2 separate regions of the Homo sapiens genome follow, and region 2 is linked to region 1. A link means that fine-mapping ties the variant in region 1 to the expression of a gene that starts in the linked region. Tissue or cell type: skeletal muscle. Region 1 holds a variant in brackets; the other region holds the start of a gene. All regions are shown on one strand. Distances are between the middles of the regions.

Evidence for each region. PIP is the estimated chance that this variant, and not a neighbour inherited with it, causes the effect.
Region 2: KDM4B starts here. The variant in region 1 is fine-mapped to the expression of KDM4B in skeletal muscle (GTEx, PIP 0.99).

The regions. Positions count from the first base shown.
Region 1 is chr19:5,044,667-5,052,767 of GRCh38, reverse strand. KDM4B (lysine demethylase 4B) reads right to left here. Exons shown (of 23, transcript NM_015015.3): 6 at 5,099-5,292. Among named protein-coding and RNA genes, the nearest start is that of KDM4B, 80 kb to the right of the region's middle. RefSeq lists enhancers at 265-764, 3,255-3,857, 5,351-6,154. The variant TC/C (reference allele first, on the strand shown) is at 4,166.
Region 2 is chr19:4,964,599-4,972,699 of GRCh38, reverse strand. It overlaps KDM4B (lysine demethylase 4B), which reads right to left and starts at 3,587. Exons shown (of 23, transcript NM_015015.3): 1 at 3,470-3,587. RefSeq lists enhancers at 1,024-1,093, 2,098-2,147 and silencers at 3,414-3,713, 4,024-4,123.

The DNA.
Region 1 (8,101 bases):
TGCCTGGGACGGGCTCGCCAGCTCCATCACCCACCAGACTCCTGGGTCCCACTCCAAGGGACAGGGCAGAGGCCATTGTGGGGCCCGACAGTGCCACCTGCAGCCAGACTGAGGGAGCCCAGGAGGGAGGGAGGTGTCTGCCCCCAGGCAGGAGCTGCCAGCAGGAGATGGAGCTGGGAGGCGGGTGGGCCAGGGAGGTCCTGAGGGGCAGTTAGGCGGGCAGCAGAGGGGTAAGGGAGCAGGCCCGCAGCCTCCACCCCAAGAACAGCCTGGCTTGGCCTGGGTGGGCGACAGACTCATCCACCCCAGGCTCTGCCTTCCACCCACCTGCGGCCACAGGGCAGGAAGCCCGGGCTGGTCCCCTGCAGCCCTGGAACCCACCCTCCCCACCCCCACCCTCCCCACCCCCACCCCCAGTGTCTGGAGCACGGTTCCTCGGTGCACACATGCGCCCATGCACACACACACATGCACGCACACCTCCAGGGACACCCATGAAGCAAAAGACGGCTATGCCTGCTAGGACTCAAGTTTCCCTGGCAGCAAGAAGAAAAGATGCTGTGAAATTCCCATGAGGGAAAACGCCAGAGAGAAAACTCAAGGTGTAGCTGAATCAAAAGGGAAAATTCTCGGCTTGCAGCTCCTTAAAGGTCAAGGGAGGCTGGTGGAGTCTTCTGATAATCCCCTCTCCCCTGGCCTCCCCAGCAGCCCTCCCCGCAGCACTCAGGAGGGTCTGGCTCATAGCAGCCCAGGATGGCCAAGAGCAACTGGGGGCTCCGTGCCCTTCACGGGAGCACAAGCTCCGAGACCCCCACCTCCCACACCTGCACCGGAGACTGAGTGTGTCCAAGGTAAACAGAGGCAGGAGAGGGTGGGCGGAGCGATCCCCTGAGGAAACAGCCAGAGATGAGACCATGGGGGACCCCCATCCTGCCTGGGGCAATGGGGGATTTCCAGACTGCCGCGGGTCATGGGCAGGTCAAGGTCGCAGTCCGGGCAAGCGCTCCTTCGCCCCGCTGCTCTTGGGGGCTTCACCTGGGTGCAGGATGACCCCCCTTCTGACAAGCGGAGCTGCAGAGACCCTGGGGGACACCCCCTTCCCTAAGCCTGAGCAGAGGCCTCTGTGGCTGCCACGCACCTGCGCTGGCCCCGCGGCACTCCTCAGGAGGGCCTTCCTCTCGCCGCCTTGGAGCCAGTGCAAGCAGCTGACCATGTCCCATCAGCTCACGACGTCCTCGGGAGTCCCTGCAGCCCCAGGAACATGCTGATCCCCCATCTGGCTTCCCTGCTGCAGTGAGAGCCAAAGCTTCTGCTCTTGGCGGTGGCCCACAGTCCCCTAAACACCCCAACACTGCCCTGCAGGGTGTCTGATGGGTTGGGGGCAAAAGGGGACCCGAAGCCTCGGCCAGGTCCCAGCCCGGCACATGGGTGCACAGGACTGAACAGTGGGCACTTTCCCAGGCAGCGTGGGCCAGGGCCCTCGAGGGGGGATGGCCACTCCACTCTCTTCTTTGGGGTGCACAGCACAATCCGAATGACCCAGAAGTGCCCTGGGACCAGCAACTCTCTCAGGGCTGGCCGAGACCCAACATCCTCCCACCCCGGCCTGGAACTCTCTTCTAGGGGCATGTGGCATGTGATGCTGCTGGCGACACTGCGCTCAGCCTCGTGGCGACGCCTGTGTTTCGTGCCTGGCCCGGGCGGCTCAGGAGGGTGGGCCCTGCAGGGGCTGCCACAGGTGCAGGTTGGGGAGGGGATGCCTGGAGGGGAACAGCCGCAGGACCGGCCTTGGAGGGTCAGCTCGGCTAAACCACCCCCACCCCAGGTTCCAGGAGGGTCTTTTTATTTATTTATTTTTTATTTATTTTGAGACGGAGTCTCACTCTGTCGCCCAGGCTGGAGTGCAGGGGTGTGATCTCCGCTCACTGCAAGCTCCGCCTCCTGGGTTCACACCATTCTCCTGCCTCAGCCTCCCGAGTAGCTGGGATTATAGGCACCTGCCACCACACCCGGCTCATTTTTTGTATTTTTAGTAGAGACGGGGTTTCACCGTGTTAGCCAAGATGGTCTCGATTTCCTGACCTCATGATCCAACCGCCTCAGCCTCCCAAAGTGCTGGGATTACAGGCGCAAACCACCGCGCCTGGCCCCAGGAGAGTCTTGATCTATGGCAAGGAGTGTGGCCTGGGACAGTGGCTTCTATGGGGCACAGCCTTCAGGACACCGACCCCAGGCCACCACCCCACCCAGGAAGACCCTGGAATACAGGGTCAAGTGGAAAGCTCGGACCCTCCCCACACCCACCTGCACTCCGGCCCCCCCGGCCTGGGTGACAGAAGGGGCTGCGGGAAGTTGGCGGGGGGAAGTTGCAGGTGCTGGCTCTGGTTTCAATCCGCATTGCCAAAGAGATTTTGAGGCGCTCAGTCTCTTCAGATATTCTTAGCCCCGCTGCCTGAGAGCACCACAGAAGCCAGCCTTTTGAAGCATGTTTCTGCCTGTTATTGACACCAGGCTGTTCACGTCACTTTGACACACAAATCAAGCTACCAAAGTAGCAACAGACCCAGAAAGCTTTAATAAAATGCTGTAAACCTGAGTACATTGACACTTTCTTTAAAATCCCACTGGAATACTCTGAAATGGTTGCAATTAAGCGGCTGCAGATGCAAGCGGAACAGTGTAATGAGGGAGACAGACGGGGCGCAGCCTTGGTGATCTCTTGGCTGGGAGCCCTACCTACCCCAAGGGCCCGAGGAAGGGAGAGGGGGGAAGCATCTCCCAGGGGCCTGAGTAGCTTCCTGAACCCCAGCCCAGGGACCAGAGGCCAGACACTCTTTCCAGTTACCTTGTCCCCACCCCCCTGCAAGTTGGGAGGGCAGCCTGGAGGGGTAGTCAGCTCCCACAGCACACAGTGAGGATCCAAGAGGCTCCGGCAAGTCACCAAGCCTCTCTGTGCCAGGCCCCTGCTGGGAGCTGGGACACGGGGTGACCAGGGCCCCTACCATCTGCTGGGGAGGACTGATAGCCCGTAGTAGACGTTGGCTAATGCTGGGGTCACCTGGTCTATGCCTGTCGCAGGCATGGGGTGTCGTGGGAACATCTGGGGCCCCGCCTCAGCCCTGGTGAGAGAGCAGGGAAGGGGCCCTGCGTGCTAAGCAGGCTGAGCTGACTGTGGGGGCGAGTGGGGAGCTCTGGGGGGTTGAGGGCATGCCCTGCAGCTAGAGCCTACACTGTGGCTCCTCTCAGGCCCCTCATGCCAGGCCCCACCCCTGCCATCCCCACCCCTTCCTGGGCAAAAACCAAGACCAAGGTCAGGGCGCTTCCGGAATTCCCTTCCCGAAAGAACTGTTGCCTACTCAACGCTGCCCCGCCCCAGCTGTCTCCCCTGAGCCATCTCCCACGACGGGTCATGGGGAAGGGTAGACATGGGAGTGGCAGCTGGACGCCTGCGGCACCAGGCGAAGCAGAGGAGGGGTGCAGTGAGGGGCATTCGGGGAGAGGTGCGGGATGCCCTCAGAGGCTGCGTCCTGGATGAACCAGCTCAGGAGAGGCCCTCGGCTCCTGGCGCATCCCTGTCAGTCCCTCCGACGGCCTGTGGCCGGGCCCCACTGCCGCCTCCAGGGAGCCACTGTCGCCTCCTCCCGCAGAGGCCCCTCTGACCTAGCAGCAGGCACCCCCGGCCCTGGCATCTGACCCATAGCAGCCCCAGCCCCAGGGTCTCCCCCAGCCCAGGCTCCCACGACAGCCAGCAACCCCCGGGGCCCCTCACAGGAGACCGAGCTGCTGGCACTGCAGTCCTTGGCACTGAAGTCCTCACGTCTGACTCACTGGCTGGTCCCCCACCTCCCATGTCCCTGACCCCCCTGCTTCTGTCTGGCTGGGCCTCCTTGCCGGCTGCTCGCCACTTCCCGCCCCACAGGGGCTCTCTGCACAGGGCAGACGGTCCCTATGGAGGCACAAACCCGGTCACACCATGGGCGTCCCGCTGCCCACGCACCCCTGGGAGGCCACGCTTTGCCCCAAGTCACACGGGGTCCTCTACAGGGCCTTTCCCTTGGGCTCCATCTGCGCTTCGGACGCAGGTGAGGATGCGCACAGCTCGCCCCTTCCTGCTCATTGTGCTTTTTTTTAACGAAGAGGTACAGCATTCTCCCCCGCCCCCCCC[TC/C]TCCCCGCTTACAACTCCAACCCAGGGAAGGGCCAGGCAAGGCGGAGCTCCCACGCCCTCCAGGCAAAGGCTCCGTCCTCCTCCAGCGCGAGGACGGCCTGGGAAGATTCCAGGCATGAGCGCGGCCCCGGGAAGGGCGGGAGCGCCACCTAGCGGCCCTTGGAGGACAGTGCAGGGCAGCCCCGCGGAGCACCCAGCAGGTTCCGCAGTCACAAGCAGAGCCCGGTGACACAGGGGCACACACACGCATGCATACTCACACTCACTCACGTGCGCACTCACATGCGCGCGCACACGTGCACATTCACACACACCCCCACACGGCCTCGCTGCGACGTGCACAGGGAGCCAGGAGAAGGTCCTGGAACTCAGCCCGCCACAGCAGCGCCCACGCTGCACCCGGCACCTCCCGGGCAGGGGCAGGTCCACCACACTGCACACAGGCCTGCAGCGCCACGCCCTGCCCTCCTAACTGTAGGGCCTGGCCCAGACGTGCCAGGGCGGAGACTGCGAGGGAGCGGCTGCAGGGTCATCCTGGCCAGGCCCCTCTGGGCAGCATGGACAGTGTCCCTTCACCAGGAACGTCTCCACTTGGCTGTGAGGCAGCACAGCCTGGGCAGCTCAGGAGGCTCAAGACCACGCTCCTGGCCATGGGGACACCTGGGGCCGCTCACAGCTCAATGGGGGGCACTCCGGGGTACAAAGCGCAAGCTCTAGGGGCCTGGGAGCTTCGGCTCTGGGGGTGCACATCCCCCACCCCAAAGCTGGTGGGTGACCCCAGGCGGTCCGGAAGATCTCCAGCCGTCATAGGCCGACCTTTGCGGCCTCACCTGGTGGGGCCCCTGCCACGGCGCCCAGCCGTGTACCCGGGATTGACTCCCTCCCGAGGGGCTCTCGGTCCGGCCGGCGGCAGGGCCAGTGCAGACACTCACCAGGACTTAGGCTCCCCAAAGTGCAGGTAGTTGATGCTGTACAGGTCCATGTCCTCGGTGTGCCAGGCGAAGGTGGTCTTCCACATGCCGAAGTACAGGTAGGGCGTGTTCACGCCCTCGATGATGGTGCCGCACTCGCGCTCCACCATGTCCAGGATGGTCCGGAGGCTCCCGATGTTCCACTGGGCCACGTCCTGTGGGGCGGCAGAGCAGCGTCGGCAACCGCCCGGCCACCCCCAGAACCTGCGAGCCCTGGGGTGCAGGCTAATTCTCCCCAGAGTCCCAGGGGTCGCTGCCCATCCTCCTCCACCCCAGTATCTGCGGCCCCCCCAGGGGCCGGTCATACCCTGCAGACCAGGGGCTGGTCTTAACCTGTGTGAGATTCTTGCCCAGGCTGGAGTGCAGTGGCAGAATCATAGCTCACTGCAGCCTCAACCTCCCAGGCTCAGGTAATCCTCCAGCCTCAGTCTCCTGAGTACCTGGGACTATAGGCTATAGGCGTGAGAAACCACACCTGGCTAATTTTTACTTTTTTCTGTGTAGAGATGAAGTCTCACTCTGTTGCCCAGGCTGGTCTCGAACTCCTGGGCTCAATGGTCCCTCCCACTTTGGCCCCTCCAAGCGCTGGGGCTGCAGGCATGAGCCGCCATACCCAGCCCAGACACCTTTTCTGAAGGGCTCACCGCCAGCTTGGCCCTTCCAGGAAGGGCCCCATCGCACATGCCAGCGTGCACCAGGCAGGCAGGGCCTGTCAGATTCCACTGAGCTGCGTGCTTCCTGCTGGGTGGAGGCCTTGTTGTGAAGCCTGCAGTTTGGGAGTGCATAATTAACACGCCTCTAAGTCAATGACACGGAAGGAGAAAAACAGTCACCACTTGGGGCTAACCCAGCGATGGTACCGGAGCCAAGGCCCAGTGACAGCCCTTCCACAGCTTCTGACCGAGGAGACGAAGACAGTTTTCAGAACTAGGCAAACAAGGACGGAATCCCCACCCACCAGGCACATCTATTCTTAATGCCACAAGCAAACAAACCCCGTCCTGTCCCAAGAGCTCATAAAATACACATTAGTCACTGCAGTCCCCGGAGAGGCTCATGGCCTGCTGAGAGGCCGAGAGGAGCCCAGACACACATGAACGTGAGCTGCTCTCACAGCCTGAATCCACCCCCCACCAGCTGTTCCTGCACCTGCACGACCGGCCCTCAGACTTGGCAAGACCAGCGGTTCCTTTGCAAGGTGAGCCCTGGCAGGAGCCCAGAAGAGGTGAGGAGGGAGGCAGTGATGAGACCCAGATGGGGCAGAGGGAGGCCCCAGGCACAGGCTGAGCTGGGCGCAAATTCATCCTGGGACCACAGCAAGTCGCTTCTCTGCTGTGGGCTGTTTCCCCCGCTGTAAAAGTAGGCTAGTGCATAGGCTAGGCATGGCAAACACATGGCAAGGAAGCCCTGAAGCTTCCCCTGGCACCTGTGGCAGGTCGGCCTGGGCTGGCACAGCCTGCGTGCGGCTGCAGAGTCCCTCCCGGGTCATCACTACAGGCCAAGTGCAGGCAGTGCAGGCCAGCCAACCCAGAGGCTCTCATGCACTGGAGTCTGAGGCTGAACTTTCACTTGAAAACAATCAGGCAGGATCCGTAAGAGAAAGACAAGCCCCAGTCAGAAAGAAAATACTTGCAAGTCACAACTGATAACCAAAATACACAGCAAACTCTCAAATTTAACCAGAAGAAAACAAACAGCATGGTTAAAAAACAGAAAAAGATGGCCAGGCGCGGTAGCTCACGCCTGTAATCCCAGCACTTTGGGAGGCCAAGGCAGGTGGATCACCTGAGGTCAGGAGCTTGAGACCAGCCTGGCCAACATGACAACACCTCGTCTCTACTAAAAATACAAAAATTAGGCTGGACATGGTGGCTCATGCCTGTAAATCCCGGCACTTTGGGAGGCCAAGGCGGGCAGATCACGAAGTCAAGAGATTGAGACCATCCTGGCCAACATGGTGAAACCCCATCGCTACTAAAAATTCAAAAATTAGCTGGGCGTGGTGGTGGGCACCGTAGTTCCAGCCTGGTGACAGAGCAAGACTCCATCTCAAAAAAAAAAAAAGAAAGAAAATTAGCTGGGTGTGGTGGTGGGCGCCTGTAATGTAATCCCAGCTACTTGGGAAGCTGAGGCACAGAAATGATTGAACCCAGGAAGTGGAGGTTGCAGTGAGCCTAGATCACGCCACTGCACTCCAACCTGGGCAACAGAGCGAGACTCCATCTCAAACAACAACAACAACAACAACAAACTGGGCAAAAGACATGAAGAGAGCTCACCAAGGAAACACACAGATGGCAAACAGGCATGCAAAGGGGCCCCGCCGCGAAGGCAGCCATCGGGGGAATGCAGATTGAAATGGCAATGAGACAGCGCAACACGCCTCCCAGGGTGGCCAGGATGCACAACACCGACAACTCCAGATGGGGGCGGGGAAGCGGGGCCCTGGGAACGTTCATTCGCTGCTGCTAGGAGCACACAGTGGGACAGGTGGGCGGGAGGACAGTTTGGTGGCGTCTTAAAAAACTAAACGTCCTCTCACCACGTGGTCCAGCAACTGTACTCCTTGGTATTTACCCAAAGGAGATGAAAACTTCTGCCCACATTGACCAAACTTGGAAGGGTCCTTTAATAGGTGAATGAGCAGGCACACTGTGGTGCACCCGGACCATGGAGTATTATTCAGCGCTGAAAAGAAATGAGCTCTCAAGCCATGAAAAATGGAGCAAACTTGAACACCTATTGCTTGGTCAAAGAGGCCAATGGGAAAAGGCTACCGACTGTAGGATTCCAGCTCACGGCATTCTGGAAAAGGCTGAGCTATGGAGACAGTGAGACATCAGTGGTTGCCTGGGGCGCAGGAGAGGGATGGGGGAGAGGGAGGAATGACGAGGGGGAGCTCAGGGGATCATTAGAGTGGTGGGATGACTCCATGTGACACTGTAATCCCAGCTACTCGGGAGG
Region 2 (8,101 bases), 80 kb after region 1:
TCACGGTCACAGCACACCATGAGCTACTGCAGGGCTGAAGGCCAAGTCCAAGGTTCTCACTGCGGGGTTGACAGTGCTTCCCAGGGGACATTTTTGGTTGCTACCGCTTAGGGGACAGGGTGCTACTAGCATCTGGTGGGTGGTGGTCAGGGATATTGTTCACACTCACCCTACGGTGCCCAGGACAGCCCCGCCACAGAATGTCCCAGCCCAGAACGTGGATAGGGCAGAGGTGGGGAGACCCTGACAGGGCAGAGGGCCTTGCTGTGTAATAAACCGGCTCCGAACTCAGAGCTCCTGGCACCCTGCAAGCTTCAGCGCCTTTTACCCGCTTTGATCCTCACAACCACCTGGGAGGGAGGTGTTCCCATTACACCCATTTTACAGAGAAGAAAGCAAGGCCCAGAGAGGGGAAGTGACTGCCTCAGAGGAGGGATCTGAATCCAGGTCTCTCCAACTCTGAAGCCTGTGTGGGGCATGGGACAGAGGGCAGAGATCCAGAGACGTCGTCAAGACCACCAGATGAGAACGGAGCCCAGGCTGGGCCCCTGCTCTTCTGTCCGGCATCCTAAGCCAGGAACAGAGACCCCTGGGGCAGGAAGGGGGAGGGCTGTGGCATCTGAAGACCCCATCGAGCTGCCTCATGGCAGGTCCCTGGAGCTGAGCCAGGAGCCTAGGGTGAGGCTGTGGATGAGGACGGCCGATCTGTCATGGCGGTGACCAGTGCAGGCCTGCGGAGCTCCCCCCGCCCCGAGCCCCCACCCTGTTCATCTGCTCTCCGTCCCCTCCTGCCCAGTGGGCTCCGAAAGATTTAGTGCCCCCGATCTGCTTTGTCACTGAGCAAGTGACTGGGTCAAGGTCACCCAGCTCTGAACCCCCAATTCCGCTCCCCGATCCAGGGAACAAAGCCACCTACAAATGCACCTCAGGCCCTCAACAGCCTCGCCTCCTCCTGCCTGCTCCCTGAGCTGGGCCCGAGGGCAGCGGACTGCACACCACCATTCCAGCTGTGACCAGGCCCTGGGCAGCCAGCTCACCCTTTCCCCCACTACACTCTAAACCCACAGGAGCCAGGGACTCCTCCCAACCTGTCCCGGCATGGCACTCGGCACTGGAAACCTAGCAGCCCCAGACCAGGTGAACGCATGACCCCAAGGCACGTCCCCACAGGTGTCAGATGGAACCGAGGACAGATGGCTTCCCCAGAGCTGAGGCTCCTCCCCGGCTCATCAGGGAGTGGGTGGGGCATAGGACAAACGGGCAGGAAACCAGCAGAGGAGACAGAGAAATTAGGAATTAAAGTACAGGCAGAGTGGTCAGGTGGGAGAGAAGGACACAGAGGACGGCCCCTGGCCACCCCAGAGGGCTCCTGCAGGACGGGACAGGGACTGAAGACAGGGCAGGAGGCTGAGGAAGGGTCTCTTCCACGAGACAGAAAAGTACAACAAAGGCCAGGCGGGGTGCTGTGCGGTGGCTGATCAGCTATACCTTTAAGCGCCAGCAGTTAACATCTTGTTAGCAGCCCCCTCCCCAAAGAGGAAAGGGTTAGAAAATGCGAGCAAACGGATTGTTACTAAGACATATATATTTCAGGTCTCAGCAACTAAACACACACGTGCACACGCAGGCACCCGCAGCTCCTGACACAGTAGACGCTTCCACCAAAACAGCCTGTACACAGACACCCGTCTGTGCGGCAGAATCTCCGTTACCCCCTTTTCCTCCCCAGCGGTGACCTCCTCTAGGCCAGGACAGTCTGACCCGTCCTGGTGTCGCCGGCTCAAGGAGGGGGAGCGCCCGGACCTGCCAGGTGTCCAATCAGACACACGGAGACGAGGCTGGCAAGTCCCAGAAATCCTCGGCTCAGACAGAAGTTGACTCTACCACGGCTTTACGCTCCGACCTTCAGGGTTTCAAAACATAAACTGCAAAGCGGAGAGAGGATGCCCACTGCTTCAGCAGGGGCTGCAGGAGAAGGCTGACCCCGTGTGTTGACAAACCCTCCTGGTGGCTCATAAGGAAGCTATTATTGGAGAATTAGGGGAGTCATTAGCTCCCATAACGGCAGTGATAAAAGCCCATAGGAGTCGTCTAATGAGCCTGCTTTAGGACTGGTGCTGTTTTTAGGAGCATTCTCCAGCCCGGGGACATTCTGATAAATGGCCATTGAGGCAGAGGACTGGGGCAGGGCACCGATCCCTTGAATTCAGTCCAGTATCCAGAGATCCCAAGACAGTGCAGGCACCCGGTGGGACCCAAAGGAACTTGCTGAATACACGCCCCAGCCAGAAACACATGGAAAAAGACGCTCTTCACATATGACAGGATCACTAGGCTCCACGGAGCTGAACCACCTTCTCACTAGTTTCACAACTCGGGGAACACTTCCTCACAGGGTGCTGGTAAATTATTAAAACAGAAGCATCCTCCCCCAAGCAAACAGATGGGATGCACCCAAAAGCAGTCCATGCCTCCACTGCCCCCAGGGGCGGAAAACATGCCCCTTAAAACCTTCCACCGTGCCCAGGTGGACAGAGTCCCCCGTCCTGCCTGATTGTCATGGCCACCACTGAGCGCAGACCTGGGCCCTGGCAGACCCCAGGTCAAGCAGATTTCAGAGCGAGTCCGTCCCCAGCTCCCAGGGGGATGTCCACGGGGGACACAGAAAAGGGGTCTCGGCGGAAGCAACTCCTCAATTCATTTCTCTAGAGCAGGGGCTTCGTTCGAGATGGCGATCAGGCTGGAAGGGGGAGGGACGGAGAGACTCGTGGAGGCTGCCGTTGCATAGCAAGATGATTTTTTTCTAAAATCCAGATTGCATATGCTTATGGCGGGGTGGGGGTTTCGGGTACGTACAGGGGGGCAAGTTTGGAAGCTACCAAGGCATAGCAGGTTGACCGGAGGTGGGGGCAGTGCAGGAGCAATGATAGGCATTTAGGGGGCATCCCTGGGTGTCCAGCTGGGGGGCTTCCCCTTAGCCCCCCTGGCGCCCAAAGGGCCAGAAACGCAGGCGGGGGTTACCCAGGGGCTGGGGTCTTTTTCCTTTTTCTTGCTTTCTTTCAAAAATAATAATAATAATAGGCCGAGGCTTGTCCCGGGTGATAAAAGGGCCCGGCCGGGGCCACCCACGCTGTCATCTTTTGTGCGGGGCGCCGGGGCCGTCTGTGCCCAGCCCCCGCGCGCCCCCGGCCCGGGAAGGGGCCCCCGCTCCCGCCCCTGGGCGCGCCCCGCCATTGTCCGGCCCCGCCGCCCCCGCCCGAAAACCAGCGGGCGCCCCCGGGCCGGGCGGTTAACGCCCCAACCGCCCCGCCGGCCCGGACAAAGCGCGAGGCCCGGCCCGAGCAGGCCGCGCCCGAGGCCTGGGCCTCGAGTCCCGGGCGCGCCCGCAGCCCCGAGCCGCGACGCGGGGGCGGCCATGGCGGCGGGGTCCGCGCTCGGACACGGCCGGGCGGCCTCCCCGTGGGCTCACCTGAGGCGGCGTGCGCGGCCCGGTCCGGGAGCAGCGGCGCGCTCTCCCCCGCCCTCGGCGTCGCACCCCCAGGCCCCGCTCGGGCCGGGCCCCGCTCGGTTGCTGGCGACCGAGCCCTCCGCAAGCGCTCGCGGGGGGGCTTATAAGGCCGCGCGCCAGCTCCGCCCCGACTGCCATTGGCTGCCGGATCCACGCCCGAGCGCCCATTGGCCGGAGCTGACAGCTCCGCCCCTCCCCTCCGCCGGGCCCATCAACACCGCACGGCCCGCCCACCGCGCGCCGCGATTGGGCGGGGACAAACGCCGGCCTCGCCTCTTCATTGGCAGACCGGCGGGGACACGCCGGCGCCCACCCACGTGCCCGCTGACCGGCTCTGTTCTCATTGGAGGGGGCGCACGCCAGCCAAGGCTGCCGCGACCAACCCGACGGCAGCTGGGCCTTGGATTGACAAGGGAGCCTCAGGGCCCGCCCGACGACCGCACAGAGAGGAGCCAGTATTGGCTTGAGGGGCCAGCCCGAGGCGCGGACAGGCTGGGGCAGGTGCCAATCACTGCCCGCAAGCTCCGGGCCCCGCCCTGGTTATCAGGCGGCGGCTGAGTACGTGAGACCCAGCACAGCATCAGCACCGGCCGGGAACGTGCAGGCTGGAGGTTCGAAACCCGTGGCCGGAATGTGGGCTTAGCGTTCCCCAATTTGCAAAGTGCCAAGCAAGGAGACATAGCGATCCGTTTTGCAAAGGAGGAGAACCGAGAACATAGGGTAAAGCAGCAAGAGCCTCCACCCCGCCACCGTAGGTCTATTCCCATCACAATCAACAAACCTTTGCCAAGGGGCAAGGCCTTCGGAATAGTTAGGGTCCCTCTCCCCGAGTTCCCTAAAATGTATGGGAGAGAATGAGCTTTGGTGCTTTCTGACCTGGATTCAAAGCTAAGCCGGGCCCCATGCCTCACTGTGGTTGACCTCCAGCAAAGTAACCTCGCTGAGTCTGTTTCCAACTGTGCAATGGATATGATGGTAGTGGCCACACCCCGTCTACCCGCCTCTTGAGAATGTTGCAAGGATTAAGTGGGATGAGGCACGGAGAAAGATTTGACCCTGTGACTTCACAAAATGAGCATTCATTGTGTACTGGACCACGCAGGGGTGTGAGGCATGCCCCCATTTGGAGTGGCAGGAGTGTAAATTGGGCAATTTGACATTTTCTAATAACATTCTAAGTGCATCCACCACCCGATAACCCAGCCAGCAGTTCTTCCTGGAGGTGATGTACCCAGAAAAAAGGTCTGGAGCTTACACAATTCAAGAATGCCGGCGGCAGGGCTGTCTGCAACTGTTTCCAATGTTTTGCACTAACTATCCATCAGTGGGGGATTAGAGAAGTAACTTAATAGCAATCAGTACTCTGGAATACTTACTATGTAGCAATTGAAAAGGAGGCCAGGCCCGGTGCTGTGGCTCGGGCGACTCACACCTGTAATCCCAGCACTTTGGGAGGTCGAGTCGGGTGGAACACCTGAGGTCCAGAGTTCGAGACCAGCCTGGCCAACATGGCAAAAACCTGTCTCTATTAACAAATACAAAATTAGCCAGGCATGGTGGCGCATGCCTGTAATCCCAGCTACTCCAGAGGCTGAGGCGGAGGTTGCAGTGAGTCGAGATCACTGCACTTCAGCCTGGGCAACAGGGTGAGACTCTGTCTCAAAAAAGGAAAGAAAAGAAAAAAGAGAAGGCCGATCTGTTTGCAAACATGAAATATCTCCCAACCGCTGAGCTAGGGACAGTGGTCCAGAATCCTGTACTCAATAAAATAAATATGGAAACACACACAGAAACCGGTATCATGAGGTTAAGAGCACACAAGCTTGTCAATGCACAGAAAAAGGTACTCCTAAACTGAAGAAACGAACTTAATCCTTGGGGAGAGAAGGAAAGCTGCACACTGGTAAAAAGAGAAGTCAAAGGAGAATTTAAGAAGCTCTGGGTGTTTTAAATTCTTATGGGACCATATTCATATATTCCACATGGAGTTGAGATTTAATTTCAGGTCATGCCTGGAATCGCAGCACTTTGGGAGGCTGAGATGGGCAGATCACTTGAGCCCACGAGTTTGAGAACAGGCTGGGCAATATAGCAAGACTCCGTCTCTACCAAAAAAATTACAAAAGTTGGGCGTGGTGACACGCGCCTATAATCCCAGCTATTCGGGGGCTGAGGCGAAAGGATCACCTGAGCCCGGGGAAGTGGAGGCTGCAGTGAGCCGTTGATTACACCACTGCACTCCAGCCTGGGTGACAGAGTCAAACCCCGTCTCAAAATAAAAAGTAAAAACAAAATTTAAAAACAGGCTGTTGCCCAGGCTGGGTGTAGTGACTCACATCTGTAATCCCAGCCCTTTGGGAGGCCAAGGTGGGAGGATCACTTGATCCCAGGAGTTTCAGGCCAGCCTGGGCAACAGAGCGAGACCTCTTCTCTACTAAAAATAAAAACCGAGTTGATTGTGCGGGCACATGCCTGTGGTCCCAGCTACACTGGGGGCTGAGGGAGGATCACTTGAGCCCAGGAGGTCGAGGCTGCAGTGAGCCATGATCACACCACTGCACTCCTGGGCAACAGAATGAGACCCTGTCTCAAAAAAAAAAAAAAGTGCAATCATGAAGGGAAAGAGTCCCCACCCCACGTACCACATACATAGGGCTTTTTGTTCTACTTCCAAGTATATTCTCTGAGACAGTGGGGGGTGTTTAGATTTCACAGACAATATAAATGTTTTTAACCGAGGAACCCAAATGGGTTCTCCACTTTATTTTGCTTAGACAAAGTTTTCATGCCATCTCTTATGAGAAAAACTTAACATGATCATAGAATCTAGACGGTAGGTCTGAGGGTTCACCATCCGATTCTTTCCAAATCCGATTCTTTCCAAGTTTTGGAAACTCTTCATATTAAAATGTTAAAAACACACTAGAATTGCTGTCAGATAAGTAGAAGTCCTCATCCTCCAAAAAGGAAGGAAATGCTCTTTAGAATATTTTAATGGGCAGATTAATTTAGGCAACACTCACCTAATTGCCCTGGTTTTCTTCCATCCTTTGCAGTCAGATGCAAATCTCACAAAGGACTGGGGCAGGGAATGCTTGGGGACCTCCCCCTAAACAAGACCAGGAGGCTTGGCTTGGCTTTCAGACGTCAAGGAACCCCCAGTTAGCAGGCCCAATGCTCAATTTCTGACTGGTCTCCCTCAATCTTTCTAGACAGGCAAGGTGTGGAGCGCAAAAATGTTCAATGCTTCAATAGATGCCCCTCCCCTTATGGGTTGGTCTGCTGCATTAACAAATTGAAATGGGAGGCCAGGTGCAGTGGCTGTAATCCCAGCACTTTGGGAGGCTGAGGCAGGAGGATCACTTGAGCCCGGGAGTTCGAGACCAGCCTGGCCAACATGGCAAAAACCCCATCTCTACAAAAAGTACAAAAATCGGCCAGGTGTGGTGGTGCATGCCTGTAGTCCCATCTACTAGAGAGGGGAAGCCCGAGAATTGCTTGAATCCAGGAGGAGGCAGCTGCAGTGAGCTGAGATTACACCACTGCACTCCAGCCTGGGCCATGGAGACTATCTCCAAAAAAAAAAAAAAGCAGTTGGGGACTGGGCTTCATGGCTCACGCCTGTAATCCCAGCACTTTGGGAGACCGAAGAGGGCAGATCACTTGAGGTCAGGAGTTCGAGACCAGCCTGGCCAACATGGTGAAACACCGTCTCTACCAAAAATACAAAAAAATTAGCCAGGCATGGTGGTGCACACCTGTAATCCCAACTACTCCGGAGGCTGAGGCAGGAGAATCACTTGAACCCAGGAGGTGGAGGTTGTAGAGCCGAGATTATGCCACTGCACTCCAGCCTGGGCAACAGAGCAAGACTACATCTTAAAACAAGTCAAACGGGGATTATAGAAAGGTGGCCCATCCGTACAGTGGAATATTACTCAGCCATGAAAAGGAATAAAGCTCTGACACAGGCTACAATGCAGATGAACCTCGAAAATTCCATCCTTAGTGACAGAAGCCAGACACAAAATACAGTATAATTCCATTTATATGAAATGTCCAGGACAGGCAAATCCATAAGGATAGAAAGAGGATTCGTGGCTTGCAGGGCCTGGGGGAGGGACACAGGGCAAGACTGCGGAAGGGTGTGAGGTTTCTTTTTGTGTGGATGTTAAAGTTCTGTAATTAGATGGTGGTGATGGCTGCATAACTGTATTGACTATACTAAAACCACTAAGCTGGCCAGGCATGGTGGCTCACACCAGTAATCCCAACACTTTGGGAGGCCGAGGCGAGTGGATCACCTGAGGTCGGGAGTTCGAGACCAGCCTGACCAACATGGTGAAACCCTGTCTCTACTAAAAATATGAAAATTAGGCGGGCATGGTGGTGCATGCCTGTAATCCCAGCTACTTGGGAGGCCGAGGCAGAAGAATCACTTGAACTCGGGAGGGGGAGGTTGCAGTAAGCAGAGATCTTGCCACTGCACTCCAGCCTGGGCCACAGAGCGAGACTGTCTCAAAAACAACACAGTAAAATAAAACCACTGAACTGTATGCTTTAAAAGGGTGACCTTTATATTACCTGAACTGT